2 separate regions of the Homo sapiens genome follow, and region 1 is linked to region 2. Evidence: fine-mapped expression QTL. A gene starts in region 2. The other region holds a variant in brackets. All regions are shown on one strand. Distances are between the middles of the regions.

Region 1 (16,071 bases), 270 kb before region 2:
ATCTAAGTGTAATGTTCAATTCCAACATGTTTGTCATAGACAGAAGAGGATTTACCATGAAGCTGATGAAGCTTCGGCTTCATGGCCCTCACTTTGGTTAGCACTGTCTAAGGTCCTGGGAGAGGCTCTAGCAATATAGTCTGATGGCCATATTTTATAACACTTGCAGTTGGTTAAGATCCTGTCTCCATTTGGACTACTCCTTCATCACGTTGCCCCTCATGTCAGGAGGTGTCAGAGTGGACCTAACTGCTTTTGGGATTCTGCTAAGAAGAAGCTGAGTTGGAAATACATTTATTTTGGGTTAGTGTGATACAGCTACGTAGTTTACTTTCCATTTTGTAGTCTAGTCATTCTCAATATAAAAACAGCTTCCAGGAACTCCTACACCCACAGTGCTGATGCATCCAGCATCATGACTAAAAGATAATGATGATACACTATTTAATGAGTGATGTCAATTCAGAGATCAGCTAAGATTAGTCACTATACAAGGGAAGTTGAAATGTCCTCAAATATAAATAAGAGAGAGGTTTTCCAATTCTATAGTGATTCTAAAAATCTAAATGACATGATCAATAAGGAGTTGCAAAGGCAAATATTAAGCATCAACTCTGATCTAACAAGCTAGAGGCAGAATACCCTTTCTATTATTTCCAGAAAATATTACAGAATTGTTGTCACAGGAAAGGTGATTTGAGAGTACATGGCCAGCCGGGCGTGGTGGCTCATGCCTGTAATCCCAGCACTTTGGGAGGCTGAGGTTGGTGGATCACGATGTCAAGAAATTGAGACCATCCTGGCCAACATGGTGAAACCCCGTCTCAACTAAAAATAAAAAAATTAGCTGGGTGTGGTGGCCCATGCCTATAGTCCCAGCTACTCAGGAGGCTGAGGCAGGAGAATCGCTTGAACCCAGGAGGCAAAGGTTGCAGTGAGCCGAGAGCACGCCACTGTACTCCAGCCTGGCAACAGAGCGAGACTCCGTCTCAAAAAAAAATTTTTTTAAATAAATAAATAAATAGAAAGAGTACACAGCCAAAAAGATATAAGGAAAAAAGTACTATAGAACATTTCAGGGAGTTAACAAAAATGTTGTATTTCTTGATTTTGTGATGTTTGTGGTACAGTCAATTTTGAACAATTTGTAATTTGTTTTTATTTCTTTTTGCATTCTAAATAAATTTTCACATTTGTACCTAATTTGGAATGTGTAACTTTGTATGTTTTTTCCTTAGAGAGAGACCCTAACCCTCACCCAAGTGGTATAAGCTTCAAAGGTGGACCCACACAACTCAGACCCACCTCTGTACAGAGCTTGCACTGCACTACATTCCTACATTTCAAAAATGTCTTAAATCACAGGTCCCAGAGCAAGGGAATCCAGAATACAAAATTCATTTTCCACTTTGCTTAGCACGGCACAATCAAATGTATTTAATGACAGGACAAGAATAAAGAGAGAATAAGACTTTGAAATTTTTGAAATTCTTTTCTTCTCTTAAGGCAGGTTTGACTCAATTAAAATATTTATATATGGAAATGAATCACAGTACAACTAGATTAGAATCGATGAAATGACTTTTAAGCTATATTTACACACACAAAAAAGCTATTTTTTTAAAGGCAGGGTATTGCTCTGTTGCCCAGGCTGGAGTGCAGTGGTATGATCACAGCTCACTGCAGGCTCAACCTCCTGGGCTCAAGGAATCCTCTCGCCTCAGCCTCCCAAGTAGCTGGGATTGCAGGCACCCGCCACCAAACCTGGCTAATTTTTTTGTATTTTTTGTAGAGACAGGGTTTCACCATGTTGCCCAGGATCGTCTCAAACTCCTGGGCTCAAGTGATCCACCTGCCTTGGCCTCTCAAAATGCTGGGATTACAGGTGTGAGCCACCACAGCTGACCTGCTATTCATTTTTGACTGTGTTGTCAAAATGAAGCCTACATTGACCCTCATAGACCTCATTAAACCTCAGGGACTCAAGCCAGAGAGAACCAGAAACTTCCAAGGCTTGCTAACTGGAATGTTTCTGTGCTATGCCGGCCTGGAGAATCCTAAAGAGCTTTTAGACTTTATAATCTCAAGAATACACAAGCACACGAACCTGCAGCAATTATACATTAATCAAATGCAATCCATATTAAGTATATCAAAATTCTGCTCATTGTGCAGTAGCCTATTTACCGTAATATACATGTAATGCATACAGAGCCAGGAAGTTTCTGAAATTCACAAATAAACTTTGTCTGTTCTTTCCATCCCTCTTGAGTAGTTGGCATAACAAACAGTATAAAGAATAGCGTGATTTGATATAAAATCAAAGCCACTTAAAAATACAAATATTAGTAATCCTACTGAAAATTAAAGAGTTACTTCCTCCCTTGGAATAACAGCCATATAGGTCCATAATCCCTTGAGGTTAGATGAATTCTATAATTCAAATAACTTAATTAACTTATAGATTTCCAAAAGGTAATATGGTGCATATGCCATGCCTAGAGCAGCACTCTATAATCCAACACATTAATACTTCTGCAGTGAAATGCATGATAATTCACATAAGTAACAGAAATAATGATCATAAATAGCTTCAAATCCTTTCAACTCAGGTCTTGCTGCCAAATGAATTCAGCTCATGTCAAACTTTGCCACCACATACATTTTATAAAAACTGGCTTGTGATATCTCCATGTTTTTTGTAATATGAAATTACAGATTAGGGATTGTGAGTCTGTATCTTCAAGAATTTCATCTATTTTGTTTTACTTTTATACAAGGATCAATCAATTGGTGTTTAGTCTCTCAAGTCCTGGGTAGTTTTGGGTAGTTTTTTTTTTATTTGGTTATATCATTCCCCATCAATCCCAGGACTTTTCAAAGTAAATCACAGTAGAATGCAATAGAAGAAGCTACTGTTATCTTGGGGATTGGTAGTGGTTGCTGGGAGCAGCCTCTTTCCCCAAAGCTCTGCCTTAAAAATGAGCTGCCTTTTCAAATGCAGCACAGGGCCACAGAAGGAGAGAATTGATCTCACAGAATTTATAGATGGGGAAAATCACTGCCAGAAATCACGCCTCTAGATAGCATAGTGGGACCCATAAATACTGAAGGCTTGAGGAGTGTCTGGACAGAACCTTATTGAGGATTCCTGCAGCGCGAGTGCTGCCACTGCCATTACTCAAAACTCAGACCTCAGAGACGAGCACAGCTCTAGGAGCTGCATGTAAACAACAGCATTTGGTATAGAAAGATCATAAAGTTATAGAATGGATGCATTCTGGCTACTCAGAACTCCCTGCTACAAACTAGAGCAACTCTTAGCAGGATCAGCCCATTCTTTCATCTTTTCTAGATAGATTAATGGAGAACAGGACCATTAACTTGAGGTTGCAGTGAGTGGAAAGAGAGATAGAGATGAATGGACAAATTTTAGGGAGCTTTTAAAAAGCTAGAAGCTGTTACTCTCAGGGGATATTACATGTTACTCTAGGCTAGGGCATTCAGGAGCATTCAAGAAACAGGCTTGCCTCATTCTACACTGAAATGTGAAAAATGTGATGAGCAACATGAAGATATTGGTATAATAAGCAGTTCTGGCATTTATCCTTTTTTTTTTTTTTTGAAGGTAAGAGTGAATTTTGAGGTCAGTATTATTCACTAGGGAGAAAATACTCTTACTCTACCTCCCCAAAATTAAGAAACACAGTAAAATCTTCTTTGCTACTTTGCAATTCTTTTTCAAATAATTCTGTCTCAGATAAGACCATTATTATCCAGATTACCAATAGTTTGATAGTTCTATGAACAGCACTGTAGAAAAATGATTATATCATACTTAGATTTTTATTTCCTTCTTTACCACATGCCAGAAAATCCCTAAAAGTATTAGCTCTCTTGACCCACGGCATCAAAATGATCTACTGTTAAGTAGAGCAACATCTTGATGACATGGCAAGTCTAGGAATACTAACTCATGAACAGTATCTAAAATATGACTCCCAGTCTTAGGCATATAATGCTGTAATTTCCAGGATGGCTGGTTTAATATGTTTTTTGTTTTGTTTTCATGCTGTTTTATTCCTCTCCTAGTACAAAAACCTATGCTATATAACATTTTATGTATCTGAGCATTTTATTTAATAACATGACTACCTATATAAATTTGTTCCATTAATGTTTAAATTTTATAAAAGTATAATTGGTTATTTTCTAGTAGCTAGCTTCTTGCTTGATAATATTCAAAGCAACTTGTTTTTATTACTCTTATTACCTTACTGTACATCATATATCCACAGGGTACTTTGGAATACAGAGTTCAAGACAAGAGGGAAAATCTACTGGGAAGATGAGAATTTGGTCCTAAGTGTGCTATTTTACCAATTCTCTGATCACGGGTAAAATAAATGCATGAGGAATGGCTACATAGGGAATGCGGTTGAGTCAACGGTCTGCCTGGTTGGTATGCTCTCCGCTGCTGTCCCTGACGTCTGACAGTGTGTGCACATCCCACCATGCAGAGCAGCTTCTGGCTCTCATGAAATACAGGCTTGATTTGCCTCGCCTATGCCTGCACATAGAGGCAGCTCATGCTTTGTCGAAGTTCAGGGGCCGTAGCCAAAACAGCAGCAGTTTGATTCAAGGGTAAGAAGCAGAGCAGGAAAAAATGGTTACTGTATCGGATAATGCTTTGTGGCAGCCCAGGAGGGAAGTGTCCTGGGGCTTCTCAGTCCCAAGTGACAGGGATGGCAATTGTGACTGAAAGGAGCCCACAGATATTACTTTAATTAAGAACAGTTCCATTCTGCATGAACAGAAATCCTCTAATTACTCTTGGATCTGTCAAGAACTGTTCTTGACAGAGCAAACAAATTTAATTTTGGTAAAATATGGTCACCAAAGTTAAGATAATTCATTATTTTATGAATAGAAATTGTAAATTGAGAGAAATGAATATGTCCAAAGTTTTTGGTCAGCCCAAATTATCAATTAAACAATTATTTGGATAGGGAAGTCTAGACTTTATGTCTATACCTCTGTTTTGCCCACCAAAAAATACCCATGGGGGAATTTAGCGTTTATTAACGAGAAAACATATTTCAAGGACAATGCTGTATGGGGGAACATAATATGCAAGCAAAATTTTCATTCTAAGCATCTACTAAAAATGGATATTAAGGATTAAGAGAGGTCAAATAAAGTAGAAAAATAAAATCAATAAAAATCTTCAAAAATATTCTGTACTTGAACTAAAAACATGCTTCCTTTATACTTGAAATACTTTTTTTCATAATATATAGAAAAAGAACCAGGTTCTAAAAGCAACTGTCTTCCACTTTCTGTTTTATATTTATGTTTAAACTGAGGCTACTAGTAATAATCTCTGTTTTGACTATCAGACTTACAAACCTTTCTTTCTGGCTAAATGTGACAGTGCGTGATTTATTGTACTTAATATTTTGTCCCTCAGTCACTTTCCTGGCTGAATTTCCCAAACCTCATTAGGGGACTTCTTCCAGTTCATGGCAGATGGACAATGACCACAGGATATAAAATGAACAGCTGTCCTCCTCCCTGCTTGTGCCTTTCTCCCTTCCAGTCCTATCCCTCTTCCCTCACTTCCAAAATATTTGTATTTCTTCATTGTCACTGGTACTCCTACCATAATGGAGAGAGGGATCCATTCTCTCCCAATTTATGGAAGGCCAAGCCACATTCCAACCACTTCCAAGTGCCCACCCCCTGCAGGTTTTCTCCCAAGCCCACAGTAGTTTCATTGCCATGTTGCATGAAACACAAGGAAGAGAAATGTGTCTGGCTTTGCCAGGTTCCCTGCCAGGCCGTCCTCCTTTCCCCAGGGCCCATGTAAACTACACCCGAATGCTCATGCCTGGCCCATTTTCTAGGAGGACTAATCCCCATCCCGGGCAGCAAGTGTTAACTGTCTCCCCTCCACCACTCATGGCAATCTGGAGACAGCATTAGTATCATTGTTGCTGTCTGGCTCTGACCTTGGTCCCCAGTTCTTAGCAGGGCTCCTGCATCTTGTTCTTCCTACAGGGTGCCATTCCCGTAACCTTCACAGTGACGCCTGACCCTCTGGTGGTACCATGCCTGCTCTTGTCAATCTCTTTCCCAAATAATGAAGTCCTCCCTCCAGCCCTCCCTCTTTCCTGGACTTTCTAACAAATTAAACTCTCATTCTCCTCTGTAGTCTGCATCTGTTAATCAGCAATGTTTACTGCCATACTTGTTTTCTTCTCCCACGTGGACTCTCTCCCCACCTCCTCCCCTCTATTTGATAATGAACTTCTCAAAGATTGGGGCAGCGTCTTAGGCTTTGCTTTCTCTACAGGGAACGTAAGCACATTATGATACATATAATAAATATTCTAAAGAGCTTAAAGATCTTCTCTTTGACAGATGAGTCCCTGGTTAATTGACAAGAAACTGGAAACTGCAGGCTCAGACTAAATTCTAACAATGCCCATGGATTTCATTTAGCATACTCCCTTGCTTCAGAAGTCAAGAATGCAGATAGTATTCAGCACCAATGTGGAACAGTATGAAATCCCTAACCTAACCTAGGAATTCAATTTAGTTACATTGTTTTTAGTTCTAGGTGTGTGCCAAATTCTGTCTTATATACAGAAAGGGACACTTGTAAGTTCCTTAGCCCTCAAGGAATATTTAAGTTAGAAAAGGTGAAAGTGAATGTGCAGAAATGGTCAGTGTATCTATCAAAGCAGAGTGAAGTACCTGTCATAAAATAAATTCAGAGCAAGTGGGGTTTCAGAGATATCAGTCTGGGGCAACGGGATGAGTTTTCATGGAGGAGTGGTGTTTGAGAGACCATTTGGTCTACATCAATAATGAATTTCTTCTCATCCTGTAGTTCACTGCTGTATTCCTTCTACTAGTACAGTCCCCCCAAAATGTTAATAGCACGAATTTATGAATGAATTACTGACATTTTTCTAAGCCTCATTAGATGAGTGACAAATTGAATATCTCAAAAGAGAAAGGGGATAATACCTGTGTCAAATTGCGCATTTTAATTCATATAAAAATATTTAATTATCAGTTCTAATAATTAAAAAACACTTATAATCAATCTCAACAATCTTTGCCAGAATTTTGGGTTTAGTGGTATTTTACAGGATTTCAGAATATTCTCTTTTATTACTTAAGCTAGGGCTTAAGAATTTGGGGTGAGGTGGATTTGAGATAAATATATATTTATAAATATTATAGATAAATATACATATGTTTTATATATATATATTTCATTTAAACTCATTTAAAAAAATAAACATTCCCTAAAAAGGTCATCTCTGGGATGACAAAGCAGGATACCCTGCATCATAATCAGTTTCACACCTTTACTTACCAAATTTTAGTTAACATAGAGGTATTCCATATATAAAACAAAAAAAAAAATTTGTTTTAATATAGATATTTGAAGATCTGGAAATTAAGTCTTAAATCTTAGTTGAATACATTTATATCCAAGAATCTTACCCTTAAATAAAACACGTATTTAACCTTATAAAACATATGTATTATTTTTGCCATTAAAATTTTCTAATGTTTCATTTATTTTTGTTTTGGGCTTAGGTCACCAAATATTTTGTTAGTCTTATACTTAGAGGTGTCCATGTTTCAGAAGAGGTGTTCACTATTTCATAATAAGTTCCCCAAGGTCTTACTCACCAGGGAGAGTGATTCTGGAAAAAAAAATGAGAATCTAATTTTAAATATATTTCAGTAAGTTCGTGGAGGAAATGAGCAACAATTCATACCAAGATATGGAG[G/A]AATCGATTTCTCCTCCTCTTGAACTACCTGTTCTAAAAGAGTTGAGAGAGAATTTCTCTACTGAATCAAGTTCTGAGTAATTAAGATGTTTATGAATTAGGCTCAAGGGAAAAATCAACTGCTTTTCTTATGCTAAATGAAATAGAATACCTTTTACAAGTGACATTTTATCCTTTACATCTATTAAAGAAAAAATAATACCAGATCTCTTTTCTTTCACAAAGCAATATTCCAATTCAGCTAAGAGTATTTTTAGCTTTTGTAATTTCCAGTTTTTATTTTTCAAAATACACTCGTGTAAACAGAGTGGCTCTCATTCATCTCTGAGACTCCGTAGCATGTACAGTACAGAAGGACAATAATTCAAGCCTAAGAACATCTGTGTATCTTAATAAGTAAATATAAAGCATTTATGATTTAATGACTTCCTTCTGTCTTGAAATGATAAAAACAAAAACAAAGCAGCAAAAAAAAAAAAAAAAAATTAAACACACGTACAAAAATAAAACCCGAATGTTTAGGACATCTGTAAGTAAAACTCAAGAGAAAAGGTACTAATTCTATAAATCATGAACAAATAATAGATTCTAGTTAGCTCAGTAATTACGTACTGATAAACACTTGCATATGTATTTCTGTCTACTTGTTTCACTTAAAGTATAGTTTACTGGTGATTCTGTTTCTTTCTGGGTAATCATTTCCATTGACTGTGGTCCTCAGATCACCTCCCCCAAGCCCCCTCTTGCCATGAAATGTCTGCATCACATCAGTTTAACACTTGGTAACATACTATTATAGATGTCTTTGTAATGGTTACTTGTCACTCAGGGAAGCAATATTTATGAGCATCTATTTATTATGAGTCCCTGGGCTAGTGACTGAGGATACTGTGATGGACAAGATAGATTTGTCTGGCAAGCCAAACTATTTATTCTTCATGGTGTGTTTTTAAATGCTTTACCTTTATTCCTTGTTTGGCTAATGAATCCTATTAATCTGATGTAAGAGGTAAGCTAAATTGAACAAGTATATTACTTGGTAAATTCTTTTAGAGTGACTCAATGCAGATCTCTATCAAGGAAGTGACAAAGAACCCCTAACACAACTACCCAAACAATTTTTCTGAAGAATTAATTTCATTCTATTTCTCTATTGCTCAAGAGAGAAAGAGGTTCTTTTGCAGACCTCTATTAAATAACTAAAGAACAACATTATTTTACTTTTAAAAAGTTAAATTAAATGAGTTTAAAACCTCCATTTAACATTTATCCCTCTATTAAGTAAGTTGAAGCCCTGAGCTGATACAGATTAGTCTTCAGATAGATGCAACTTTATCTGACATTGCTCATAGCTACCAGGCCCAGTTCCTCTGCTCTAGGAGGGCACGCATGTTCCCCTCCAATGTCTTGCCTGTATTCACTCTGCCTCTTCACTTGAAAAACCTTTCCCTGTCCTTTCAAGTGACTTGGGTTGTTGGCAGGGATTCTCCTTCCTAAGAAGCCTTCCTCAAGAACCTCATTAGGCACTGCCACCCTGGGGACATATACACAGACCCACCCTGTTTACAACAATGCCGTTTTCTAGAGATTTCATGCTCTCTATGTACCCAGTGCCTTCTACTACATTGTTAAGTGCTGTAAAAACGTTCTGTTTTCTCACTTATTTTGTTTTCCCAGTTGAAGCCAGCTCAAGCAAATACTGAGCACACAACAAATATTCAGTGAAATTTTGTTAAGACTGTGTGGTAGACACAAGGTACTACCGCCATTTCCTTTGGGTCCTCAACCCTGCCTGAGAAAGTAGAGTTCGGAGGCATCTGTAGGATAACACTTTGCAAGGATGTCATCTCAAATTTTTCTTCCTATCCCAGAGGAAATCTAAAGGAAGTGGGCAAATGCCCCTAAGGCTACTACCATAAATTCCATAAGTTGCGTCTAATGAATCAAGTGAGGATGGTAGCAAATCGATGTCTCAGCACAGAAATGGATAAGAGATCTTTCACTGGAATGGAAAAATGAAAAGTTCTTCTACGAATATTTTAGGACACTTTCCAAGATGATTTAGCTGTGGATAACATGATAAATTTCATCTTGCAGAACTGCATTTTCAGGATTCTTTGACTTTAAAAATCATTGGTTAAGACAGCCTTACATTTATGTATATATATGTATGTGTGTGTATATGTATATATACACAAGTACATAATCTATATACACATGTATAATATATATAATTATATAAACACATCAGATACACACATGTATGTATACATATATAATGTAATATATGTATATATTGTATAAACATTGTGTGTGTGTGTGTGTGTGTGTGTGTGTATTTGAAAGAACTGAGAGAGTATTGCTGCTAAACATTGGCATATGGAATTTATTTGAGACACCCCTTAGTAATTCAAGCAATTTTTGTATGAGGAACTTGGGAGTCTTTTGGATAACATTTGTTATGCAACTGAAAATGTTTACAAGAGCAATATGAAAGTATCAACACAATAATTTCTCCAATTGTGGTTATACATGCCCAATTATGAACATAATTGACCACTTAGGTTATAATAATAGAATTCCCTAGAAAACTGCTTGAATCATTGTGTTATACAGTGAACATTTAACATTTAATATCCTAAAGGACTTCCTAAGGAGTGACACTAAAACTAACTGGACATATTATTATTAGTATAGATTTGGAGAATTCCACAGTACACAAGGAAATGTAAATGTTGAATTGTTAACATATAGTTTTTTATAACATAATCTTAATATAATTTTTGAACTGAGTATAAATAAAATGGCTATTATGGCTGCTATTGGATTGGTTGGATTCATTTTAATTTGCTATTTTGGTATCTGATTACTATGGATACCCACAATTATGGCATTTCTAGAATTTGTGAGTGTTCCTCAGTCTGGCCCTCATATCACCCAAATAAACAGAATGATGTCACACCCTTATACCTCGTAAACATCCATATAAACAAATGATAATGAGATACACAAAACATTTCTGGAAAGTTCTGCCCGCTATACGGTATTCACCACATACCACCACACACCATACAACAGATGGTTTGCTACTACATTGTTTCTTTGCCATTCTAACTCTTCTTGGTTTCCCCCAATTTTTTACTCTCAAAGTGTAGTAAGTAAATTCACCAATGAAGTTTATAAACAATAAATTACAATTTCTTTTACTAAATTGTTCCATTTCATTCCTAAGGATATGTTAAAATTTCACTTCTGGTTCTAAAACTGCCACCTGAAAAGATTTATAAATGTATTTTTAGTTATAAACTTGAGATCTCTTTTTCTCATTTCCTTCCTCCCTCTTTCCTTCCTCCTTCCACCCTTCCTTCATTTTCTCCTTGCCATCTCTCTCTCTCTCTCTCTCTCTTTCCCCAATTCTGTTACTCTTCCAGTCTTCCAGCAGGATTCAAATCCGTGCTTTAAATAATATAAGTTGGCCTGATGGCTACAGTCCTCAGGCTTGTGGGGAGACCAAGGGCTCTTGCTAAGTCCCATGTTTATGTCTAGTCCCGAGACCTTGGCCCTGGTGCTTGCTATGGGTTTTGAGTCTTAGGTAATAAACCCTTCATTCTCTGATTACCTCCTCTTCTTGGTACTTTTTCATCAAGTCTGTTGTAATTGGTACAAATGAAAGGCAAGGAAATAGAGAATCTATGCCATATTAGCAGTATACTATTCACCAAAATAGTAATTTTTCCCTGTAATAAAGGATAATTTAATTGGTGTAGGAGCTCTCCACCCTTGAATAAAGTACAAATAATATTAGAATTAGGAGACATATATTTTAAAATTGATTCTCTTGTGTTCTTTAATTGCTTAAAGACAATATCTGAAACTAATGTTCATCTCTCTAACAAAAAGAACAAGTACTCAGAATACTGATACATTATTAACCATTATTCAGCTTATGTTATATATTAATAGCATAATTAAACACGTTTATTGTGATTAAGAGGCTCTAAGTTGCCTGTCACGCTACAGTTAAAAAAATTTGTTTTTGTAGCACCACAACTCTTTAAAAATAAAACTTTTTTTGATTATAAAAACATTACGTGTTTGCTACAGAACAGGATACACTTGTTAATAAGTCAAAGAAAACTCTTTCATCAAAAAAACCATTATTTTTGTTTTTTCTAACACTTTACTTATGATCACACATGGACTTCTGAACTGTCTGTAAATTGTTGTAGGTAATACTGTCAACTGGAGAAGAAAATAACCCAAAATGTAATCAGGTGACTTCACATAGTACCTCCTACACAGGCTGAAACAAGGCACAGTGATGAAAAAGTGACAAATACATGACTTAAAGAAAACTGTTCTTCAGCACAATCAACCACAGTGGGCTCCTGGCTGTAGAACACTGACTTGCAATTTGGAATAGAAGAATCCTGAGAGAAACAGTCCTTTTGCTAACGGCAGACCTTCTAAGATATGGAAGCGACTGGAGGATGCTGTTCTGAGCATGGCTGGGGGACACCTGCAATTCTCATGCCATAGGAAATGGTCAGGAGGGGGTTTCGCTCTAATGGGACCTAGGCCCCATTAAAAGACAACATGTTTCTTCCCCTAGAACATTTCCTCTGTAAATTTATACAAGTTATTTATAAATACATACCCTTGAAAAATAAAATGGAAGGTAATAGAATAGACAGCAGAACTGCAAACACCTGATCAGAAGGCACCTTATTTTACTGAATGCTTTGGGTAGGAACTTTTAGCTCTAAAACAAAAGCACTTAAAGGAAACACTGCCAGATATGGTCATTGTTTTCATTATCTATGTTTGAATTTAACATAGATTATTTATGCCAAACATAAAGCCTTAATTGGTTTCTTTCGGTTACCAGTAATTATCTTTCTCACTACCAGTTAGTCAGAGCTCAGGAAATGGAACATATTTCAATCTTAATCTGAGCAAAACACAACCAGCAAGGTAATCCTGCTGTAATAGAATAAGCCAATGTATGCAAAATACATATGTAAATCATCTTAAGATTTTTTTGAATTATCTGCAGTATTTTTAATACCATTCACTGCTGGAGAGAAGTGAGAACAGAATGTAACATTTAAAAATATTTATTTCACTTTAAAAATGTTGTAGATTATTTACTGCAAAATTAAGACTTACTATTCTGTAAATCCAAAAGCATCTGGCATTATAATCCTGATTGCACACTATGTTTAAAGCAAACATTTCCAAATTAAATCGTTATAACTGCTAAAAAACACTTACCAATGGAAAATTGGAGGACAGAAGCTGTTGTTGTATTAAGGCCTGTGGTAATCTAAAGAAAAAAGAATACATAAAAATAAGACAAGACAGAGAGGAGAAAGAGGAGAAAGATGCTGGGAGGGGTACGGGGAGGGGAAGAGTTAAAAAAGAGGAGAGAGGAAATCCATTAACAGAAGTTGCATTTATCCAGTTGTTAGTTCATTTTATCAATGTGTCTGAACACAGACCTGTTTCTTCTTCCCCTGTGGGGAATAAAGAAGTGAAATCCTGACTTGGAGACGGATAGCATATTTCTCAATGTCCTTTCACAAACTGTTCTTAGTGGAATCCAGCAGGTTATCTTGTGAAGGCATTTAACAAAGCTCCTCTCCACTCATTCCACCATCTCCCTTCCATCCTACCAGATCAATAGATCGGGGACCCAAAGAGAATGTAGCAAAAGGGCTACCGAACAAAAATTGGGAGATAAACTAAGAACAAATGAGTAGAATAAAATTATTTTGAAAAGGAAATAGAACTACAATAGCTAAAGGTCATAGGCTTTCTTTGTGGAGGGGTGTGATGAAATGGTCTAAAATTGACTGTAATAATGGTTCCATAACTTTGTAAATAAACCAGAAGCCTTGAACTGTACACTTTAAAGAAGGTAGAATCTGTGGATTATTTCTCAATAAAACTGTTACCAAAAAAAATGAAGAAAAGAAATAGAATTATGAACCTAGAAATAGTCTTCTGACAAGTTTCTGCTACTTTTCCTTAGTTTCATGCTTAAGAAGCATGCTTAAGCAAAATTTCCCCCTTCTGAAAGAAGAATGGTGCTTCTTTAATTTTAAAATTTTATTTATTTATCCTTTAGAGCAGTAGCTTTGACCCATACCAGCTCAAATGAGACAAAAATTAAGGTTCTCATTTTGCTGGGTTCTGAAATTCTGTACACTACAATATAGGACATTTCAGTTACTCCACCGTATGCAATAGAAAGTGGATAAGTCTTCACTGTGGCAGAGGCAGTAGGTTGTCTTACTTTTGCTGCTTTTTTTTTTCGTTGTTTTGTTTTTTTTGAGACAGACTCTCTCTCTGTTGCACTTTGCTTCTTATATGTCTTAATAACATCTTTAGACATATCCTTGCACTTTGTTAGCCCTTATATGACAGAGTCCACAATTGCAGAAGGGTCAAGTGCTATACAATTCATGAAGAGCTGTAGGAAATGAGTGAGCAAGCCTCTTGCTCTGTCGGAATTCAGTTGGGATGTGAATATTAAAAGATCAGATACATGTGAATATCAAAATATCTATATCATGACTTGGAGAGGTGACTGAACGTGTGCTTTAAATACACGGCTATAAAGCTACTGCTAGTGCATTAAATGTACTGAAGAGTCTTAGATACTTATCCTGATGGTGTAATAAATGATGCTTGTGTCACCTACTTGATCAAGTTCCACAGCTGTGACCTCTGCTAGCGAACAGCAAGTTGTGTGGAATATCGCCAAATTTCAAATTATGTGTGCTAACTGAGGGTGACCCTAGACTTTGATTGGTTACTGATTCTAATTTTTTTCACCAGGGAAGTTTAGGACTGGTATAATGGTTGACTCTCATTTCTTTACCTTTACCCATTTATTTTATTAGTAAAATATCAGCTACAAGAAAGAACAGGAAAGATGAAGGAAAAAAAAAAAGAAGCACTGCCTATGAAATCTATTCTGAGATCTATTCACCTATATTTATACTTGAGTATTATAAATAAATATAAATTATACCTATATTTATAATTGGGTAATATAAATTATTAATCTTGAGTTCAAATATGAGTTATTAAGCCTTTATATTTGACATTCTGAAAACAAAAGGGGCCCTTAAAGAGCTTTTGATAAATAATATGGTAACTATGAATGGCTGATACATAACTTTTTTCTTACCAAATCTCTCTTAAATTATAAATACACTCAAAACTATAGGAAATTAGTATGATAACTAAATGAATCAGAAGAAATCACTGTAGGTCAAAGCTGTTCATTCTGTACTTTTTCTCTAAAATTTTTTATTGAGTTTGATATTGTTTTAGTCCAAACTCACCCTTGTAATTAAAATGCATTTTCAAATATGTGAGAATAATTCAGTAAATAGGCCTGGTGCAGAGGCTCATGCCTATAATCCCAGCACTTTAGGAAGCCAAGGCAGTAGGACTGCTTGAGCCCAGGAGTTCAAGACCAGCCTAGGCAACATAGGGAGACCTCATCTCTACAAACAATTTAAAAAAATTAGCTGGGTGTGGTGGTGCATGCCTGTAGTCCCAGCTACTTAGGAGGCTGAGGCAGGAGGCTGAGGTCATAGGATCACCTGAGCCCAGGAGGTCAGGGCTGCAGTGAGCCATGATGGCACACCTGGACACCAGCCTAGGTGACAGAGTGAGGCCTTGTCTTAAAACATAATAGTAATAATTTAGTGAAGAATTTCTTTTTTTAAAATGGAGGGTAACATAACTCATTTCATTTTAAATTCTGAGAGCATATTTTCCTTTAAATGAGTGAGAAAATGAATTCCTTTTTACCTTTATCTTATACTAACAAAATTAATAAAGTTCAGTGTCACCACCTGAAATACAGAGACTTCACTGGGTTAAATAAAACCCAGTGAGGGGTGCATGGCACAGCTGTTAAAAAGAAACAAAAACTTGTGCTATGTCCAGGTAACAGTTTCTTCCACCCCTCACTGACTAACTTCTCCAGAAATGAAATGGCTATTTAACTACATTCACAAAAATGGAGATCCTCCTTTTAGCATTTTAAAAGATAAATCCTTAGCCTAATAAGGTTCTTTGCTCGTGGTTCTTTTTCTTACAACTTCAGTAAGAATGGGCTTTATGAAAAATAAGAAGGCATATTGTTTAAAAAGTGATGTTTGGGGGCTGATAACTTTCATTAGTTCTCATGCACAACAATTTTGACGGCATTCAGTCACAAAGTACCATGCAAATG
Region 2 (16,071 bases):
CCAACCAATTTCCTCATATTCCTCCATCACACACACTGGACATATAACATTATTTGCAGGATGAGAATACAGGAAGTGTTTATTAAAGAAAAGGAAATGTGAAAAGAACTGGAACTATGATCATAACATATCTCAACATTCACAACAAAGGTGACCCAAACAAAGAGATTACATGTTCCTGAAGGTAAGACTCAGATGTCTGTTTCCTATGTCAATATGTAATAAGCAAAAGGAATGACAAACTTGGATATAGTCCTAGAGGCTGAGCCAGATGTGACAAACAAGGTTAAGGATGGGGCAGAGCTCACATTCACAACCATGTCACACGTCTAGATGTTTTAAATGTCAACAGGATTTACATATGGTGACACTGCATTTTAGAGAGATAGTGTCAGGAAATAAAGTTAGGTGAAGGAAACGAACAAGCAAAAATTATCAGTATATAAGAGGTCAGGCACAGGTTACCTTCTCAAAGCATAATTAGAAAAGCTAACATAAAATGCACTATCTTTGCCACCTGTAAAAGTAGCATACCTTAAGGGATATTTTGAAAATATATTGTCAAAAATTTCCTAGGAAACACCTCAGTTTTATCAAGGTTACCAAAACCAACTCTATGAGAGGATCAGAGCAATTCAGAGCTTGATACAGGAATTATGACTGACCTAAAAGCAAATGTTAACTGGGACATCTGTGTGTTTAGATGAAATACATATTAATTAGGATTGCATTCAGCTACAAGTAACAGAAACAACTTAATTTTTCTCACAATACAAGAAGTCCCGTCATTATTTCAGGGCTGGCATAGCTGCCTGAAGATATAAAGGAGGACCCAGCTCCCTCTAAAGTTTTGTTCCACCATCATTGGCATGTGGCCATTATCCTCAAGGTCACAAGATGGTTGTATCATCTCCGAGCTAGAATAGGCAAGGTTAGGGCAAAAAGTGCGTGCCTGCTGAGTCTTTTATAAAATATTCTTTATCAGTTTTATCAAGAGTCTTCCCAAAGACTCTGACTGGGTGCAGTGGCTCATGCCTGTTATCCTAGCATTTTGGGAGGCCAAGGCAGGTGGACCATCTGAGGTCAACAGTTCAAGACCAGCCTGGCCAACACGGCAAAACCCTGTCTCTAGTAAAAACACAAAAATTACCTGGTCTAGTGGTGTGCACCTGTAGTCCCAGCTATTCAGAAGGCTGCGGCACGAGAATCGCCTGAACCCAGGAGGTGGAGGTTACAGTGAGCCGAAAAGGTGTCACTGCACTCCAGCCTGGGCGACACTGAGACTCTGCCTCAATAATAATAATAAAAAGAACCTTCCCAAAGACCCTAATCAACAGATTTTCACTTCATATCGCTGAATTATACCGCCAATAAATGGCAGAGCAAGATATGAACACGGGTCTATCTTCAGCATCCAGTTAAAAAATACTCACCTCCATGGCTCCCTTGCAGCTCCATGTAATTCAGCGATATGAAGAAATTCTATGGGAGGACCACAGCAATTCAGAGCTTGATACAAGAATTATGACCGACCTAAATAGTTGATAATAAATGTACTGATTTGTTTTCATATTACTATCAGTAAGAAGAGAAAAAAGGTGTAGAGATGGCAATGGGGGAAACCTGAAGGGAAGAAAGTGAAAGAATTTAAAAAGAAAAAGAACAAAGTGGTGAAGCAGAAAGGAGAAAGGAAGAGGAGAGGGAAAGCAAGGACCATGGCATGGAGTCAAAGGAAGCAAAGGAGGAAAGACAAAGATAAAATTTAGAGAGAGGAAGAGAAGATGAGATACAGTGGGAAGGAGATGGGAAAGGCAGAGAGAGAGGACTAAGGTGACCTTAGTCCTTATGGTCTACTGTCACTCCTTTTCAGGTCACTTGGTTTGTGGGCACCAGTGGACATCAATAATCGGTGCTATCTATAACATGTCACCTTTCCTATCATGTAAGAGTATTTTAATCAATAATTTTCTTTTTAAACTGGGTCTCACTTCGTTGCTCAGGCTGGTCTTGAAATCCTGGGCTCAAGTGATCCTCCTGTCTCAGTCTCCAAAGTAGCTAGGATCACAAGCATATGCCACTGTGCCTAGCTATAATAAAATTTTATTTTGTTTTCAACATAAAGTTTTATTTTGTTAAGGAAAGCTAATTCAGCATTAAAGGATAACCTGCATTTTAAACATTTACTTTGAAAACTCAGAACGCTTGTAACTATTTCTTAGTGGGATTCAATGCTATCTAATTATCTTAGCTTTGTTTTTTATTTTGAGTGATTTAGGGCTGCCTTATACCACAAATCAACATTTCTACATTTGTACTGATCCCCCTGCCACACACACATCCTCAAATACATTTGCTATAATTGGTTCTTAGAGAGGATAGAATAAAAAAGAAAAAAATAGGTATAGTTTTAGAGAAGCACACATTTTAAAAATAATTGGCTAACCTATAGGCACAGCATTCAACCCTTCAGAAGCTCTGCCTTCAATGAGATGGGCATGGCAGGTGACTGTGGTGAAAATTACTTTCTGAGCCACATAACTGACACCAAAGTGAGATCATGTCATTTCATGCGGAATGTCCTAAGAGCCAATAATTTTTTAAAGCTACACAATTCCTGCGTTTGAACAGTCATTATGAGATATTCATATTTGAAAATTCAATTCGAGTATCTGAAATAGGGCTTTTAAAACGCTTTTGCTTAAAGTTGATGAGACTGAAATGCTATAGAGTTCAGTTATTTTTAAAATGACTCTAAAATCAGGTAAAGAGGGTGGATTAATCACCCCAATGTTTTTGAAATGAAAATACTTAGATAAGTCAATTTGCCTTTTAACGTGTATTAAGTCATTACTCAGGCATAGCCTAAACCACCTCTCTCTGTCCACAGTGAACCTGCCCATTCCAACCTAATGCACTCCACCTTCCTTTTTTTCCGGAGTGTAGTGCTATCCAGTTTTTCTATTTCTATGTGACACAAAGAACTTCATATTTCTGTGTGTGTGTGTGTGTGTGTGTGTGTGTGTGTATGTCTTTTAAAATGTAAATGTTCAAAAAGTACTGGTCACTCAATTTATTTATGCTTTTCAAATGTAAAGGTTATTTGAAATAAAGGGGTCATTGCATCAGCAACTATTTATGAAGATTAAAGATATAACATAAGTTTCAAACTAGCACTTGAAGTGATCAGAAAAACAATTATGGCTTAATATGCAACCAATCTTAAATAATTGATGGAGTAAGGCTTCTAGTTTATTCTATAAAGTTGACCAATTCCCAGGAGGTAAAAAAAAAAAAAAATCAAAGACAGATTTTTAGATATTTTCTTTTGAATAAAACTAATCCATAAAAATTTGAAAGTCAAAAATGCTGACTTTAAAATCTTGGTAAAATATCACTCTTTTTAAAGATGGAAAGTCAAATTTACTGGAATAAAACAGTTCTGTAAAAACTATATTCATATTATTACAACGATACAACATTACCATTTTATTAACATTTTCAATGCAAATAAAACTAATAGTTTAAAACAAAGATTCACACAAATTGGAAGGAAATATAATTAAATAACTCCTAGTAATGTAGGAATGAATGAAGTAGGAATTTCTGCCAAAATGAAATATTTTGAACTATAATTGTAAAGACTTGATTTTAGTTTAAAATTGGAATTGAAACTCACAGTGAATATAAATTACAGGAAGCAAGATTTATGATTTAAGAAACAATCTCAACCACATCAGTAAAATATGTATGAAATAAATTGTAGAGAGTAAGATAAATATGTAACAAATAGAGCAAAATGCTCTAAAATGCCCAATTTTCATAGTCCTATATAAGCAGGACGCAGCTTCAGTTCACTTATAAATTGCATTTGACAAATGATTTTGAAAGTTTAAATACACTGATTCCAGAATCAGACATATGAAGGATAAATAACCGATCACCTGATCAGCAATGCAGTTACTTTAGTAATGGCAAATTACTTTATTTCAAATAATAAAATCATTCCTTTGAAAGGAATTAAATCTGGAATATATTTCCAAAAATTACGTCTGACATAAATATCATCTGGTATTTGAAAGGTCATTAAATTGCACTTCCTTTGAACAAGAATTTTTAAATAGCAACCAGTTAATTTCAGAACACGTGTGCCTTTAACAGTAATACTGGAAATTGTCAAAATAAAGTGCCCTCAATACTCTATCCTGATTATACCTTTCTTTTAAGTAAATGTTTAGTTTTAGGAATAGAACATTGATTTTCCTGTCTGTCTCACAGTATAATTTTTTTTTAAAGTGGGAGTAGATATACAGCATGAAAAAATTACCAATAGTGATGCCGGACTTACAAAATACAGTAAAATCCCCCTTTTAAAACATCATGCCACATCACCAATTCAATTCTACTCAAGGCCAAATTTTTTTCTCTCAGTTGATATTTTAGAGCATACTTCTCATTGTTAATGGAACACTTCCCCCATCTTATGCTACCATAGTAACAGAAATTCTAGTCCATTCAGAAATTTAGGTACATTGTCTCACCAAAGCTCAAGTATTTTGGGTAGACTCATTTACTTAACGCTTGTCTTTCATGCACAATGTCTTCTTCTAATGGCTGACCTCTCCTTTTTGATGGGGACTGAATAAAGCCAACCTTGTGAGGGGCAGTTCCTTACTGACATGATTTCAGGGGCATCCAAGTCTTTCTATCCCCATATCTATTATCTGGCTGTTCAGTGATGCTAAACTTACTTTAAGCAAAGAGGGGAAAGACATCTTTCTACAATTACAATAAAAAATGTGGGAAAGTTTAACACTGACAAGTCACATTCACCATAAATTGATTGGGGGCAAGGCGAGGAGTGGCAAACAAAATGGATGGTAGATACCTGATGGCTGGGGGTGAGGAAAAGGAACGACCATGGGTGAGGAAAGGTGCAGACTTCAATCCAACCATCACACTTTTCACAATACTGCCTTTGTCCCTAGGAGAAGGTGTGCTGATTACGGGGCATGGCTGGAAAACAGAAATGGCTACCTGACTAAACCATGTAGGTTCTTGTTTCCTATTTCCCCATCATTTGCAACTTTCTACCACACAAAACAAAACAAAACAAAAAATTCCAGGTTTGGTGCCCGAAACGCACATTGCGGAAACTGACCATGTCTTAGGATTTGTGCAAAAAAAAAGGAAATTCTAGGAAAAAAAAAATGTTCTGACCCTGAGACCTTTCTAATTCAACATGATGTATAGAGACCTCCTTTCGCTGAGCTTCTACATTGTGGTATACTCATGGTTCATTGTGACTAATAATGCCCTTTCAAAAGAGTCAGAGATAACATAATTTAAAAGATATATGAAGATGAGAAAGAGATACCAAATGACATTTAATTGAGAGATGAGAACACACCAGATGTAACCATGCACTATTTATAGAGTTGCCAGTACTGAAAATAGATGGATATACTACTTAATGTAAAAATCTGTGACAATTCTGTTAGACTCGAAAGCTCCAGATTTTTTAGTACTATATATTTTTTATTTTTGTTAAAGATATTCCATAGATATATTTAAATACGACACATACAGGGACCTATAATTGTGAACCACTTTTATTCTAGACTGGCAATTGCTGCCCCATTTTACATTCTGAGCTCTGCCACACACCCCAGTGTCAGAGGGCAGCTGACTGATCTACAGAAATGTTCTATGTTAGGTGCTATTGTGCACACCACCTCTATCTCAATGCATTCTTTTAGGTAAAAAAAAAAAAAAAAAAAAAAAGTCACAACTATCAGCTCTACACCTAAACATGGTTCATTCAAATGGTGACTTCAATGTAAATCATAAATGTGACTGATTTTTTCTGATATAACTGTTACACTTTAAAGATCCAGAAGGTTAGAAATAAAGTCTCAAGCTAACATTTTACACATTTCTTGTAAGTTTAAGAAGACTTCTTGGGCAAAAGACCTTTCATTTTGGTCACATATCAAAATGGGCCAACCACAAAAGTACATGAGATTAAGTTTTCCTATTGGCAGTTCAATTCTAACAGAAGCTGTGTGTGTGTGTGTGTGTGTGTGTGTGTGTGTGTGTGTGTGTCTGAATTTTTTAAATTAATTTTCAAAAGCCTAAAAGGAAAAGAGACATACATAAGCATCACTTCATTTTTAAACATGTATTCTACCTGTAGAACATTTTACAAAAAAAAAAAAAAAAACTCTTACTTTAAGGCCTATAGCTACAGCTAGTTCCAAAATCTAAATGTTTAATAAAATAGATAACAGAAATTTAAAATCTGACACAATTCTCAAAGCTTATAATAATTTGACCTTTCATAACTTACATAATACAATTTCTCTACCTTTTCTGGTGGTGGAAAAGAGGTGGAAATTGAGATTCTCCTCCGCAATGTCCAACTTGAAGTATTTACACTTTATTTCTACTCTATGTTATCCATTCCTTTTCAGACTTAGATATGTGATTATGGTGAGTCTTAAGGTGACTTGCATTTGCTATTCAAGGGTGCAAGGGAGCAAAACCAAAGGGTGTATGATATTTTGGTGTTTTTAGTTAAGTTTTCAATATCGAGACCTTCCAAAGGATGTGGAAAACAGAAAAAATAATAATAAAGCTTTGTATCATCACATGGTCTTCCATCATAACCTGACAGTCACGCCTTTGAGACCAGCCTCACTCACTTACCCACCGTTCTCACTGAGAGATCATACCGGGCAAGAACTTTTGCTAAGAGTCGCACGGAGCAGCAGGCTGTCAATCAGGCTTTGGGTTAGGTCTGGTTGCCATCACAGTAGCTGCTCCTTCCACTTAAAGATTCTCATTATCTCAGAAAAGCACTAGATTGTTCTTGGGAAGAGGGCGTAGTAAGCACTTTTATCTAAAAAGGGACTAGTTACAGAACATTAATTTTCCAAAATTATTTCTAAAATTCCACCAAATTAAACTTCTGCTTTACAGACAAGGCTGCCACCATGCCACAAGGAAGTTGTAAAAGCACTGTTTAAAACCTCTAGGAGACGTTTATTTAGGCTAAATATTTTATAATAGATATCAAGGTTTTTTTAAAAACAGAAAAATCTTAAGGATTCTTACAATTTTTAAATGCTTGTCTATCTTAAGTGCTAGCACCCCGTAGATTATCTCCCGCCATGCCAATGATTGTTAGCCTATTAGAGATAGAAACTATTAACAGGAGCCTACTGGACAATGGTTTCTATTTGGTTGGGTATAAATATTTTGGGGTTGAAATTCTAATTAAATAGTGCCTGTCGCTGCTTAAAAGCTCTATAGGCATGAAATGTTCAGAAGTCCCAGAAGAAATACAGAAAAGAGACATTTTTTATTTTTCCACATACTCGATGTACTAGCTTAAAATACATGTACTACATAATATTATATTTCTTGGAGCTAAATTTTATTTCTTCTGTAATGTTTATTTTTGATGCAGGGCTGCATAATGATTCCATTTTTAAGATACCTCTAAATTATAAGGGATTCCAGCCTCTACCTGGAAATTAAAGCTGTGCAGATAAAATACAAAGTCATTAATAAACATCACAAAGATAATTCTAACAAGAAGCACCATGTAAAAGTAAGGCAGGAATCAGAAAAATCATCAATTACTGACATATTAAATCACACTTTCAAAAGAATAGGGAGCTGGAAGCAGCCGCTCCCTTTCAGGAGGGCTGTATGACACTGAATGAAATGCCAGGGACTCCTGGCTGGTGAGCAGCGGGAACTTTGCGGTCGAGCGGCGCGGGGCAGCCACAGACCTGGGCGCTTCAATCTGTCACCAGCCTGCCCGCAAAGCCCAGCGACAGCCCCCAACGCCCCCCCGGGGACCCATCTGGGGGGACCGGGAGCAGGACAAAGGTCTGAAATCCAAGTCCTAGGAGTAAAGAAACAAAATGCGCAGGTTCAATTTAAAGTGCCTGCGGTAAGTACGGGGAGTGAGGGGGAAAGACACCGGCCTCCAAGAATTCTCAGGCGTTTAGCACAAGCACCAGCTCATTACCAGGAGATGCGTTCGGGGAGTGGGGACATGGAGAATGAATCCCAACTTGTGACTCCATTCTCCACTAACTTTATTCTCGCTCCCTGGACCAAGCGCATCGCTGGGGCCAGGGTTGTCATGGTTCTTGTTTCCAAGGCCCCTTGGAAGAAGGAAAGGGATGAGAAAGGTGCGCTGGCGGGCGCACCCGGCGGCGGCGAGCGCGGAGGTGCTGCGGTACCTACCATGGTATTCTTGTCCCGGAACGTAGTAGGTGGGGTTGCCCGCAATATGCAGGGAAATGAGCACCTCGCCCTGCTCCCCATCCCCTTCCAGCTCCCCGTGGTGGGTGCACAGGAAAAAGAAGGGCGAAAAGCGGGGGTAATAGCCAGCCGCCGCGCGCGCCCTCAGCGTCGCCCCCAGCAACAGCGCTAGGAGGAAAGTCTGCCGGGCCCAGCCACTGCGCTCCATGCCGCCGCCGCCGCCGCCGCCGCCGCGCGCCCTACGCGCCGCTCGCTCATTCAGTTTTGGAGACGCCGGGACGGAGGAGCCACGCGGAGAGAAGGCGAGAAGAAGGCGGACGGGAGCGGAACGGGCTCGGGAGCGGGCCTGGGAGCGGGCCCCCGCCGAGAAGTTCCGCGGGAGACGGCGGCTCCCAAAGTTACTTTGGGCCGCGGGAGCGCGGGACCGGGGCTGCGGGCGCCGAGAGCGCGTCGTCTGCCGCCTCCGTGCGCCGCCGCCGCCTCTGCGCGACGCCCCTCGGCCAGGCCTGGGAAAGCGCCCGCCCCGCTCCACACCTTCTTAAAGCCCCGGGCGCCGCGTCCCCCCCGCCGCCGCCACACGTGTCCCGGCCGCTCCCCCGCCCCCGCGCGCCGCCCCGCCCGCCCCCCGCCCTCTCGGGCTGGCTCGGCGGCACCTCGCGCGGCGAGGGGCGCACGCGTCCCCGGAGTCCCCGGCCAGCGCCCGGTTCGCACCCGGGAGGACAGGGAGGGGCGCCCGCCGGGGAGCGGGACGGGGACGCTGTCGAGGACCGCTGAGCCCGCGACTCTTCTGCGAGGGACGTCAAAGCCCCGCAGAGGGCACCTCCCGTCCAGCTGTCTGAAGGGGAAGGCCAGCCCCTTTGGCCGTCAGTGTGCCCTGTTTTTCCTGGGAGGATGCGTGAGGGAAGGAGAGGGGCGGCAGGGACGGCCGCTGGCGCCGGTTTCTTTGTCTGAGCCGGCTGCGTCCCGCGCCCCTCGGGGCTCGCAGTCTGCCAGTCCGGGCGGCCCGCACTCGTTCTGGGAATCCGCCCGAGGCCGCGAACCGCTAGGGGCCCTCGCGCTCCCTTCCCACCCAGGCCCCCTGTCCCTCCCGCCGCGGCCGCCCGGCCCCTCGCGGCAGCGACAGAGCCTCATCTGTAGAGGATTTTAAAATGAGATTAAGCGAAAGTGGAATTGGCAGACTCGAGTGGTGCCTGGAAATGGTGATTTGTGCTGCTCGGTTGTGGGGAATTGTAAGGCAGGAAGGGCTGGCGGAGCTAAGATCCGACAGGCTCTCTTCGCCGGACTGTTCTGTTATTCATTGCTTCTGGGCTCTTCAGGCAGAGATGGGTGTTGTAATTTTTTAAATCAGTGTTTATTTCCTTTAAATGTCGGTTATGACCAATGGCCCTGAAATCGGGGGAGGGAAAAACGTTCAGGGGAGATGCTGGCAGCGGTGATTGAAGCGGGTGGTAATGAGCGGCTGCACATGAACTGCAGGGAAGTGAAATAATCCATAAGCACGTTTTTAACCGAGGACGGCTGGCAGGAGCCCTGCGGCATCCGGAGATGGGGGAGCGGGGTTGCCAGGTTTTAATGCCTCTCCCCACCCACCCTTGGCTTGCCACCAAGCCAGATAAACCCGCACGTACAGAAATGAGTAGATTATAAAATTGGAAGGGATAGTGCCTTTGCCTGCATTTGTGGGGCGAGGGGCGGTGAAAATCAGGGTCCAAGGGGAGACCTCTGTAATCACTTCGTTGCAAAAGGAAGAAATTGTTTTTCTTCCTCTTACTGAGACCGAATGACAGGTAGAAAGGGCCCATTTCTAGCTGGCTTCTTGTTTCCCTTACTTCAAAATCCCCAGAGGCTTAACTGCCATATAAATAATATACAGTGTATACATATATGTATGTGCATATATATATATATGATGTGGTAACAATTGCTACACTGTAGCTCTGCGGGGTGCAGGCTGTGGGGCTAGACGTACTTTAGCTTTTTAATCCTAACACCAACTGGAGAGGCAAAAAATATCCCTATTTCACAAGGGAGGAGGCACTCAGAAATGTTGATAACTTGCCCAAAGTCAGTGACAAAGGCTGGATGCAGGGCAGACTGGCTGGCCTCAGAGGCTCTTGTCCTGCACTGCCCTGCCACAGTCGACAGCCCTAGCTGGAGCAGGTGGTGTTGCCCCAAACAGAATTAGGAGATACTCGCCCACAGCTAACAAGGCTGTTACTGCCTTCCTGTCCAGTCATGTGAATATAGCCAAAGACAAAATTAATCACTTGTAGAAAGAATCCAAAACTATTTAATGTTTTTGGCTTACACTTTTAAAATGTTTAGTTACTATGCACTGAGCACCGTCCTAAGTACTATACATACTAACTCCCTTATTCCTCATAACAATACTGTGGGAAAAGTACCATTGATAGCTTCATTTTACTATGATGAAACAGCACAGGGAGGTTAAGTAACTTGTCCAAGGTCACACAGCTAGTGAGTGCTGTGACTTGAACCCAGGCAGTCTGATTTTGACACACTAACCACTGCAAATCGCCTCTAAAGAATGCATGTTGGTGTTGTTAGAGGGATGGGGGAATAATTATTCTTCATCCAGTGTCAGAATACCTCATTTAATCCTTATATTAGCCTGCAAAGTAGGTATAATTATCTTCATTTTTAAAGAGAAGAAAGTTGAGATTCATAGAAGTTAAAGGAGCTTGGGATCAAGTCTGGCCATGCTTGATGCCAAGGTCGCTGCTTAAATAAACTGTCTTTAGTAAGCGCTGACACTTGGTCCAGGACATGATTGGAATTTAATTCATATAAGGTCCTCAATTCCCAGGAAGTCCCCTTCTTTCCATTGTGTAGTGCACTCTCAGAGAAATATTCTTTCTCGTATCTCTCGACATGGCTTTCTTAACATTCAATTTATGTGACCAAGTTTATTTTTCAATCTTCCCCTTTATTGTGCTTCCTTAATTTTTACCACTTTGCTTTGCTATTACATTTGAATAACTTTTATACTGTTAGCCATGAAGCAAGCTCATATTTCTGGCTACAGCCCTGCAGTTGTTCAGTAACAGACACAAAGACTGTTTTTAAATAATGTCCTGAGTGGTGTTGAGCTGGTCAAGAGGGGAGTAAAAGTTGGTACACTCCAGTCTGCAGTCCTTAGAACTAACATGAATACCTTGTAGAGGCTCAAGTTCATATTTGTTTCATCTCTGACACTTTTTTTGATTAGGCCAGTTCAACTAGTCATTAAAAACTTTTAAATAACCTTTAGAAAATCAGAAAAATACATAAATCATATATAAAATCCATTGAACCGAGAGTAGCATCTTCTTAGTGAGCAACTTACTTGAAATCACGCAATAAGGTGGAAACCCAGGTTAGATAGCAAAACTTCCTGTTTCCCAATTCGTGTGCTAACCCTTACACCTCGTTTCTATTTAGTGAGCCATAATAAGTATCTCCAAGAATATTGGGTCTGCAAAATCCAAAAACCTTCCGAACTAATAGAAAAATAGAGAAGTGCTTTTCCAGAAAAAATGGTTTACATCAAAAACATCTGCAAAAAATAAAAGGTGATGTCAGGTGAAAATGAATAGGCTTGTGGGAAAGGGAGTTTAAAATGGAATGAGATTTATTTTTAATTAAAAGAGTTTTGAAATAGTAATTAGTCTACCAAAAGAATTAAACTAAGTATTCTTAGAAGATAAATCCACTTCTTCTTGATAAGTGGAAATTATTGCCCAGTATTTGAATAATCATAACACGATGGGAATTAAATTCATATATATATATATATTTGCTATGTGTGTGTATATATATATATATATATATCTGCTATATCTCTCTATATATACATGTATATATATACATATATCAGATACATAGCTTTTAAATTATTGGGAGGTGATTCATCCATATGAAATACAAAGAAGACATTAAATTATATTTTAAGGTTGCAAGAATTCACTCATCTGCCTTCCATTGATATTTTTTGAGATGAAGCATTAAACATTTTGGTATATGTGGGAAAGTGAGTCACTATTCTTATTTACCATGTAAAAATCAAACAAAGTTTATAAAATCAAAAAATATGTAAATATAAATATGAAGAGGGTGAACAAACTGAAATCAGTTGACTTATTAGACTCTAAAATGGTAATAAAAGGCCACATGAGAGCAAACCCAATAGCAGCTAATAAACTTATAAAATCTATTACTCATAAGACATGGTACTGTATGATAAAATTGAGGCTCCTAAGCAAAAAACAAAAATCAAAAAAAAAAACACACAAAAATAGACCCTAAAGATCAGTAAGCCTTTTGCAAATGAAATTGCACTGAGAAAGGTGGGATATTAGGGAGTTGGCTCTGTTACGTACGTCCTGCCGGAACATGTTACTTATTGCCACCCCAGATTGAAATACCATGATGAGATAAACTATGGGACAACACAAAGTCATTATATTGTAAGATTTCTGAAACAGAATCTGATTCCTCAACACTAAAAATCCCTTTTTTTAAAGTTTCTCCACTTCCTGGGATTTTCCCTGCCCCTGCTTCTCTCTGGAATGCCCTTCCTGTTTCCTGTGGCCTAACCACACATCTTCCACCCTCCTCTCCCTCACCTCACTTCTTACTTGGCTATAGCAACTCATGCTCCAAGTCTTCTCTCACACATTTTTGCATCTGAGAGATCTTTCCTGATCCCTCATCCTAAATTATGTCCTCTAGACCAGCACTATCCGATATAGTGTCCTAGTCCCCAGGTAGCTATTTAAATTCAAATCAAATTAAATTTAAAAATAAGTTCTTCAGTCACATTAACCACATTTCCAGTATCCAATAGCTAAGGGTGGCTAGTAATGGGATAATCTGTAAGGCTGCACTGTCTGTACTGGACAGTAAGTGCAGACTTACAGATTATCCCATTACTGCAGAAAGTCCTATTAGACAGCACTGTTCTACATTGAAAATGTGAATGAATGCCCAGTCACCAACACATTCATTCAATCAGTATTTATCAGACACCTCCTATGTGCCAAACTGCTGGATGCAGTGGACTCAGTGAATAAAGCTAATACAGTGCCCACCCGTTTGGCATCTACAATCTAGTGCTGGGGACAGACAGTAAACTCATACAATAAACAAGATTATTTCTGACACTGGTAAATGCTATGAAGAAATAAAACCAGATGATGTGGTAGAGAGTGTCTAGGGCAGGGAGGCTACTGTAGATTGGAGAGTCAGGGAAAGCTTCTCTGAAAGAGTGTAATTGGAGCTAACACTTCATTAATACGGAAGAGTCCATCATGTTAACATGTGGGGGAAAGAGCAGTTCAGCTGGAGAGATCAGATAATATAAAGGCCCTGAAGCAGGGCTATGCTTGAGATGTCCAAGGCTTAGGAAAGATAGCAAGAAAAGGGAAGAGTGAGGCTGGGCACAGTGGCTCATGCCTGTAATCCCAGCACTTTGGGAGGCTGAGGCAGGAGGATCACTTGAGGCCAGGAGTCTGAGGCTGGCCTGAGAAACATAGCGAGACCCTATTTCTACAAAAGATTTTAAAATTAGCCAGGCATGGGGGTGCATGCTTGTAGTCCCAGCTACTTGGGAGGCTGAAGTAGGAGGATTGCCTGAGCCCAGGAGTTCAAGGTTGCAGTGAACTATGATTGCATCACTGTATTCCAGCCTGGGCAACAGAGTGAGACCCTGTCTCTAAAAAATCACCATCGTCATAAAGTAAGTAAAATGAAAGAAAAGGAAAGAGTGGTATGGGTACGAGATGAGGTCAGAGAAGCAGGCAGAGACTAGATCACATTAATGTGCTGGGGAGACTTGGGTCAGGAAGTAACATGATCTGAATGAATAATTAAAGGAAAGAGTTGAAGAATGCCAAAATAAGTTGAAGAAACATTTTCTAATACTTTTTCTCCAGGGTTTAAATAATATCCAACACAATATTTTAATGTTATTGTCTACAGCACAGTATTACAGTAAAGCAAGTACATTCACTAGGCACTAGCATGGACAGTGCTACAGTGAAGATTTTCTTTTCTTTTTTCTTATTCCTGAAAACAATGGTGAAGCATGGAAGGGATTTTAAGCAGAGACATACCATGGTCCTATTTGTACGTTTGGAAGATCAAGGGGAGAGTGGATTGGAGAGCCATGAAAAGTAGATTCAGGGAGAGAATTAGGATGTAGAGCAAGTATCTCAGGTGAGAGGTGATGGTCTTCAAAGGAGATGGAGAGAAGAGAGTAGAACTGAGACGTATTGAGGAGCCAGAACTACAGGATTGAGTAACAGATAGAGTGACTGACTGGGCATAGGGATAAAGGGAGAGAGATGTGTTGAAGAGGATGCACAACTTTCAGGCTTTCGCAGCTTGGTAATTGTTGCTGTTAGATAAACTGTTAGATAAACTATTAGATAAAAAGTATTTTTTATTAAGTAAACTTTTTAATGAAGTATAGTAATAGGCACAAAACCATGAACAAATAATAAGTGTAGTGTGCAATGCAGTGTCAAAAATGGAACACCTCATGTAAGCAGTGTCCAAAGAATATAAACAGAAGTCTCCATGACCACTTTGATTGAGCAATCATATTCCTCAAGGCATGGAGAAAGTTTCAAGGAGAAACATAACATGTCTTCAGGATGGTTATTTTTGCCTGTTTCCAAACTTTATGTAAGTGGAATCATACAATATATGTGATTTTATATCTGGTTTCTTTGGCTCAATATCATGGTTATAAGAATTATTCCAGTTGCTATAGGTTGCAAAAATTTGTTCATTTGTATCTTGTAGAGTATATGGGGGGGAAAATCACAATTTTCTTATTTGTTAGTGGAAATTTTGGCTATTTTCAGTTTAGGGGAACTATGAATATGCAGTTAATATATTCTTGCACGTGTCTTTTGGTGAACATGTGTGTACATTTCAGTTAAGAGAGGGAGTGTTGGATCATGGTGGAAACTCCTTTTAACACATTGATGAATTAGTGAGAAATAAAGATAAATCCTTAGAGGTCAAAAATGAAGTGACAGCAGGAATCCAGAGATAAAGAATGGAGTATGTAATCCACCCAGGACTCTGAGACATCTGCCCACTTCAGTAACACTTGAATTTCCACTGTGACGGACATGTGGGGTTGGGAACGGAGATAAAGCTTAGGGCCTGCTCAAGGTGGGAAGAATGATAGGATAGTGCTACTCAAAGTGTGGTTTGCAGATCAGTCTTCAAACTATCTGTTGCCAGTACACGTTGAGATAGGTACAGAAATGGAGAGTGTTTAAAAACTTTCATAGTTATTGTATAAGCAGTAGTATCCAAGCAGCATTCCATGTCCCTAGTAATTCATATTGACCTTAGTTTTACAAAAGTATCTGTCTGTGATGGATTATGAGTTAGTATGCAAAGTACTGTCCCGGAAAATCCATACATAAAGCTATTACCCATCCCCAAATAGCTCGGCCCTCAATGAAAGGTGAACTAGAAAAAAATCAGAAATTCTCTCACTAAAATTTGAAACCACAATCTGGCTCTCAGGAGGTTGTGACACAAATTCACATTTCTGTTTGATTTTAAAAACCTCAAGCTAATAATTAATTTTAAAGCGGTTCTGGGTTGAAAGTGTTCCCAGGCACCTGGCAAAACCAAATTCAAATCACCTCTAGCATGGACCCTAAAAACAAAACAAAAACAATTTCTTTAAGTCAGGCTTCAAAGAACTACAACAGATGAAGATTCACAGAACGTTGTGTTTACAATCAAAAATCACTAATACTGTGAGAA

Which allele goes with the higher level. Alleles are on the strand shown, and positions count from the first base shown. SD is a standard deviation of normalised expression in the study named.
As copies of G replace A in region 1, the expression in fibroblasts of the gene that starts at base 8,787 in region 2 goes down (small effect, 0.21 SD a copy in GTEx).

Evidence for each region.
Region 1: its variant is fine-mapped to the expression of RELN in fibroblasts (GTEx, PIP 0.99).

The regions. Positions count from the first base shown.
Region 1 is chr7:103,710,052-103,726,122 of GRCh38, forward strand. It overlaps RELN (reelin), which reads right to left. Exons shown (of 65, transcript NM_005045.4): 8 at 13,089-13,140. Among named protein-coding and RNA genes, the nearest start is that of RELN, 270 kb to the right of the region's middle. The variant G/A (reference allele first, on the strand shown) is at 7,815.
Region 2 is chr7:103,980,872-103,996,942 of GRCh38, forward strand. It overlaps RELN (reelin), which reads right to left and starts at 8,787. Exons shown (of 65, transcript NM_005045.4): 1 at 8,260-8,787. The coding sequence starts at 8,485. RefSeq lists a cis regulatory region at 15,104-15,699.